Linked DNA regions of Homo sapiens: region 1 is linked to region 2. The links come from fine-mapping of genetic effects on gene expression. A gene starts in region 2. The other region holds a variant in brackets. All regions are shown on one strand. Distances are between the middles of the regions.

Region 1 (2,908 bases), 670 kb after region 2:
CCTTTATTCATGCATTAAATACCAAGCTCTAGTAGTAGGTCCAATAATCATTATAATTTTGAAGCAGTAATGAGCAGAATCAATATTTTGAGACACTGGTAACAATATAATGCGTCATGAAAATATCTGATTTCTACTGGTGACACAGTCACAGGTAGTATCACTGTGGTATGTTCCTATTTATAACGGAAAGAAATGTTTCATTTCAGCTAGAGGATAGGATAGTGAGAATGAAGATGTGCTTTTTTACCATCCAAGTTCAGGGACCCCTGGAATTTTGATCATCACCCAGAAGATCCCCATGGGGTCCATTGACCCATATTAAGAACCACTCTTTGCGGGATTCATAAGAACCACGGAGTCAGGATCCACTGGAACCACTGCAGTGTTGTTCCTTCAGCCAGCTAGCCTGCGAGAGTGGTTTCTGAGACTCTGTAGGTATGGGGCCTGTTCTCTGGGTGCTAGATATACCACAGTTCCTGCCCGCATGGAACTTCCATTCCAGTGGAAGAGGCTGACAGCAAGCAAGCTAGATCATGAAAATCCAGGGAAGTTAGAGCATGGTGAGTACTGAGGAGAAAAATGAAGCCAAGAAAAGGAGAATGAAGGGTCTGGATCACAGTGCCTCCTGAGAAAAGCTGGCATTTGAGCAAAGACCTGAAGGAGGTGAGGGAGGCAGCCAGACAGGGGTCTTGGAAGAGCATCCCAGGCAGAGGGCACAGCACACACACATCGTGTGTGTGAAGTGTGGGAAGGGCTCCACACCACAGAGGTGACAGCAGGGGCAGGCACCCAGTGGGGCAGGGCCTTGCCAGCCACAGTAAGGACTTCCGCTTTTCCTGTGAGGTGGGAGCCATCTGAAGGCTGAACGGAGGACGGCACCATCCCTGAAAGCCTCCTGCTGCTGGGTACAGAGGCCAGAAGAGGTAGGAGGCCACAGCCATAATCCAGGAACGAAATGACAATGGCGTGGCCTGGATGGTGGCGTGTGGTGGTGACAAGTGGTCAGGTTCTGGATTGATGGGGATTTGTGGCCAGATGAGACGTGGCATGTCAGAGGGTGCAGAGTCATGTGTGCCTCAGTGACCAGGCGGTCTTCAGGACGTTCAGAGTGGTTTGTGGTTGCCAGTCTCCTTAATTTCCCCATTTACAGGAGGTGAACTTCTGTTTGAATTAATAATGCCAACATTTATTGAGCTAACATTTATGAAATTATACATATTATGTATTCCCATGTGAACAGATGGTTTGTGTTCAGATGCCATTGTGCAGAGGAGGCCACAGGACCCAGGGAGGATGGGGACCTTGCCAAGGTCCCACCGGCAGCATTCAGAGCTCGGAGCCTCCCGTCAGTTAGTTAGCCCCGGAGCTTGGTCTCCCCGGTGC[G/A]GCTGCCATGATGGCCAATGCACAGGCTCGGATGAGGTGGCGCCCTGGCCGCCCGCCCGTGGCAGGGATTAGATCAGGCATGGCACATGAGTGTGTCTGGCAGGACGTAGTGGGCAGTCAAAATGGCAGTTTCCTGCCTCCCTCCCTTCCAGGAGCCTGGGGCTTGACGCATTGCCTCTCCCAGAACGCTACTCACCCGACTAGGCCAGGGTTTTATTCTTTTTTCTATTTAGATTACTCTTCGGCCTCCAACCTTATGGCAGCAGAGACGACAGTGTCAACACATTGAAGCCTTCGTGAGCCATCCAGTGTTTGTCTCCCCAGGGGAAGTGAGATGGCTTCCCTGGGCTGGTGTTCTATGCCTTTGTGTCCTGGCCAGGGCCCAGGACCGGCTGATGGCAGGGACACTTTGCCGTCTTACTCATGTATTGCCGTGACGCTTAAATACACTTTATCAACCACTACCAGTTTTTTCTTCATATTAGGGATGGCATTGGAAGAAGGAATAGATAAGTAACGTGTTTGAGCAAAGAAAGATCTACCCTATTAAATTGTTTTATCTGGTAGGGATGGTATTTAAATAGACTGAAATCTTTTTAGAAAACTCATGCAAAGCACATGTGTAGAGAACTTGATCTGATTTACTTGGAACATGGAAGTACTAAGGATTTCAGTAGCTCTGGTTTCTTCGTGGGGTTTTATTTGAAGGGTCCTGGAAGCACTGTATGCTGGAGGCTGCTGTATTTCCTGAGGAGCAAAGTGGCCTGAGAGAGAGGGAGCAATGTCCACAGGCAGGTCTGTGATTTAGGCAGACAGACGGGGAAATGTCTGGGGCCCAGCGGGCTTTTCCAAGTAATCTGTTACTGTCTGGTATTAGGGTTAGACCATATGAAATGCTGCTTTTGCAGGTTAAAAATCAGCAATTTTGTATGATTCAACTTGATACATAACTCACCCCATTTCAAGACTTGAGCAGCTACAGTATTTATGGGATTGTTCATTTAAACAGAACTTAGAACAATAAATTTCTAAGAATTTTTACTAATCCTGCTCACAGACTAATCTTGATTCTTGTCCATGTGAGCTCAATCCAGAGCAGTCCCTGAAAGGCCATAGATCTAGTGCAGTTCCTGCCTGTGGCAGTGTCCACAGACACATCCCAGTGTCGGGGTCCCTCGTTCCCTTCGTGAAGAGAACAGAGCCACCTCTTTTCACCACACTGGGACTCCGGGGCAGCATCAGCCTGCCTCCTTCTTTGCTAAAAATCACACTGTGCCACATCTTTATCCTGCCCCCAAGTGGAGAGACGCACATGCTCCTCCCACTTTGCTATGGCACAGCATTGTCAGCTCTGCAGCAGCCAACATTCTAGTAAGGGTGTGACCCCTGTTCCCTACTCTTCTCCTTCAGATATAATATGATTCCGTACACTTTATTCAAGAGTTCATTCTTTACTGTCCTTCCTTTTTTGCTCTGTATTAGCTGCATTTATGTAAATTTTTCTCCCCCAAATGACAGTGCC
Region 2 (2,908 bases):
ATTATGGCATTTCCCCCTCTGCACTAGCTTCTTTAGGATGTATGAATTTCACCTAGCAGTATGTGTGTGTGTTGAGTTTTGATACCCATCTCTTTGTGTGTTAGTGGACAGAGTAGAAAAATGCAGACAACAGATTAACAGAAGAGAAAATAACTCATGAGCGGTCTTGGACACATTTAATATTATCAATGATATTCTGCGATAAAACATAAGCGGGGGTAGTATTTATGTACTTATTGGCTTACTAAATTGATCACATTTTCTGGTGGAAAAGTTAAATGCAATTTAGCTGCAGAGGATTTGGAACATGCCCCAGTTTGGTATTTGTTTATACTTTATATTTTAAAAAGGGAAAACAACTTGATTTAATCTCTGATTTGTGTAGAAAACTTGGCTTGCCAACTTATTGAAATTCACAGCTCTTGCCCAGAGGAACTGGTCTTCCGCTAAAAACTAGCCTTGGTTTATGCTAAGGTGGCAAAAGACTTAATTTGGGAATTACATTTCTTCCAAAGACTAATTTCAAACTAGGTATATATATTTTTAAGTTGGTTTGCAGATTCACATCTACACCACCTCTTCCAGAGTTGGGGGATGTTTTCCCTCTTGTTTATCGTTTTGCTGGTGTGAATGCTGAGAATTAATTACTCTCCTTTGTAACACTAAGACAACTTTTAATGATCATTTGTTTCTTCTATTGTATGGAATGAAATCATAAGAAGTTTCATTTAATTGGTTTATTCATTTAAAGAGATTCCTTTAATTGAAATAGAGAAAAGGAAAAATAAAACCCTAGAAAATAAAACCAGGTTCTAACCACTCCAGGGCGAAACGCGTAAATCATTTTAAAAATGAATACCCCAAATTAAGAATTTAATTTTTAAAACTCTTTATGTCTCTCTCTCCACATTTGTAGTATGTGAAAGGCAAGAGAGACCCTTTGAATCAGGGAAAAGTTATTCTTTGAAATGACATCGGTGATCTGATTCCCTCTGTATTTCAACCGCATTAACTTCACACCGTCCACACTGGGCAATGAAGATGCTCAGAGTCAGGTCAAATTCACCCTCCTGAAAAACTGCAAATTAAGATGCTGTTGATTACACATCACCGGCTGTCTTAATCATCGTGATCAAAATCCAAATATTAAGGAAAGTGGCCTGGGAGGGTTACGTTTGGGCTTTTGACAGACCCTCAACCAAACTCTGACGCCCAGCCTGCGCGTTTCCACATCTTTTTCCAGGCAAGAGGCTCCACCAGCCCGCGTGGGGCTCGCAGTGTTTCTCTAGAGTGGCTAGACATCCCCCAGCCCCCAAACCCAGACACACCCCGACCCCCGCGAATGGTTCTGGGCTGTCAAAACACGCGGCGGCGTGTTCAGTCCCAATAACTCGCGTGATGATTAATGAGCAGCTTGATAATTTAATATCGCGTGTGATTAAATTATAAGGCGTGGGGGAGGGGAGCTCTGCGCCACCTCGGCAGCCCCGCCGACGCCGACCAGCTAACCGGACTGGGCTGCGCGCGGAGCCCCCTCTTCCCGTGCACAGTGCGGGGCGAGGCTTGGCGAGCGGTGGGTCTGCGCCTTCCCAAGGTCAGTGGGTCTGGAGAGGGGAGGACGGCGGGACTGGGGGTGGCGGAAGGGATGTCTTGCAGAGAGGAGGAGAGGTGTGGGCTCAGGGTAGCTCTGGTCTGAGCCGATGAGCAGGGCGAGTCATCGACTCTTTCCCCGGCAAAGGCGCGTGGAAGGCTGGAAAATGGCCTCAGGCAAGGGAAGATTTGTTTTTAAAAATTCCTCTTTTCTCTGCCACGGGGGCTTAGAGAGTCCCTAGGATTCGGAGACCCCTGGGGGGAAGGGGCGCCCCTCTGAGTCTCTCTCTGGATCCCATCCCCCCGACCCCGCCCCGCGCCTTGACTTTGTGGGGTTTCCCCGCAGGCCGGGCCGAGGTGGCGGTCGGGTTGGGCCACCCCAAGCCCCTTCTTTTCCCCAGCCCGCAGAGCCCGGCCTTGCCTAGTGCTCGGCGGGGTTCAGGCAGGTCCGGGGGAAGAGGGAGTGGATGAAGCCTGCGAGAGCCGGAAGCTGCGGGGAGGCAGAGAGACGCCCGCAAAACTCTAGGCGCAGAGTCTCCGGGGTTTCCAGCCGGATTCCTAGGGGAGGCGCGAAAACCCGATCTAAACTGAGGTTACTGGAGGGACTCCTGGCCGGCACTCTTTTCTCCTGAAGAGGTCGTTTAGGGGGGCTCAGGCGTGGCCACTCCTTCCCCTGGAAGAAGTGTGAGCGCAGGGCCCTCGCCGGGTGAGGGGGCCGGCGGCGCTCACACTGTCCCTGCCGCCGCGGCACAGTCCTGCCCCGGCCCAGGTAGGCGGTTGCTTTTGCTGCTATGCAGAGCCAGGTCTGCTCCGGGGGCTGCAGCCTCAGAGGGGTACCTCGAGAAACCACTTGCGGGACACAGGGAGAGTCGCCTCTTATTCCATGGCTCTGTCGAAGGGCTGAACTTTTAGCCCGAGGAGGGCAGGCCCTCGACAGGTAGGGATGTCCCCAGAAGACCCTAGGAAACAACACCTTGGGGTGGGGGGCGGGGGACGGGGGGGTTGTTCAGACCCAGAGCGGGAGGGTGAAAATTAAAGCGTCCTGACCAGGGCTCCAGAGGGCTCGGCGTCCAGGCTGTGCTGGCTGGATTTTCAGCTGGGAAATGGCATTCGAAAGGGGACCCGGTGGGCTGAACCCAGGCTGCCCGCTTTCCTTCACCCAGAGAGGCCCTGCAGAGCGCCAGAACGGCGCGCCTGGTGTCCGGTGCTTCGGGCTCCAGGTGCAGTGGCCGAACCTTCCTCCTAGACAAAGATGGAAGCTTCCTAGGTTGGGCTCCTTGGATATGCAGCCATGACCATTTCTCTCCCAGCTTCTCCA

Direction of the effects. Positions count from the first base shown, and alleles are read on the strand shown. Sizes are in standard deviations (SD) of each study's normalised expression.
As copies of A replace G in region 1, the expression in spinal cord of the gene that starts at base 1,507 in region 2 goes down (large effect, 1.3 SD a copy in GTEx).

What was found. PIP is the estimated chance that this variant, and not a neighbour inherited with it, causes the effect.
Region 1: its variant is fine-mapped to the expression of LINC00237 in spinal cord (GTEx, PIP above 0.99).

Annotation. Positions count from the first base shown.
Region 1 is chr20:20,435,423-20,438,330 of GRCh38, reverse strand. The region is part of intron 37 of RALGAPA2 (Ral GTPase activating protein catalytic subunit alpha 2); the gene reads left to right. Among named protein-coding and RNA genes, the nearest start is that of INSM1, 69 kb to the right of the region's middle. The variant G/A (reference allele first, on the strand shown) is at 1,387.
Region 2 is chr20:21,104,957-21,107,864 of GRCh38, reverse strand. It overlaps LINC00237 (long intergenic non-protein coding RNA 237), which reads left to right and starts at 1,507. Exons shown (of 2, transcript NR_190203.1): 1 at 1,507-1,594.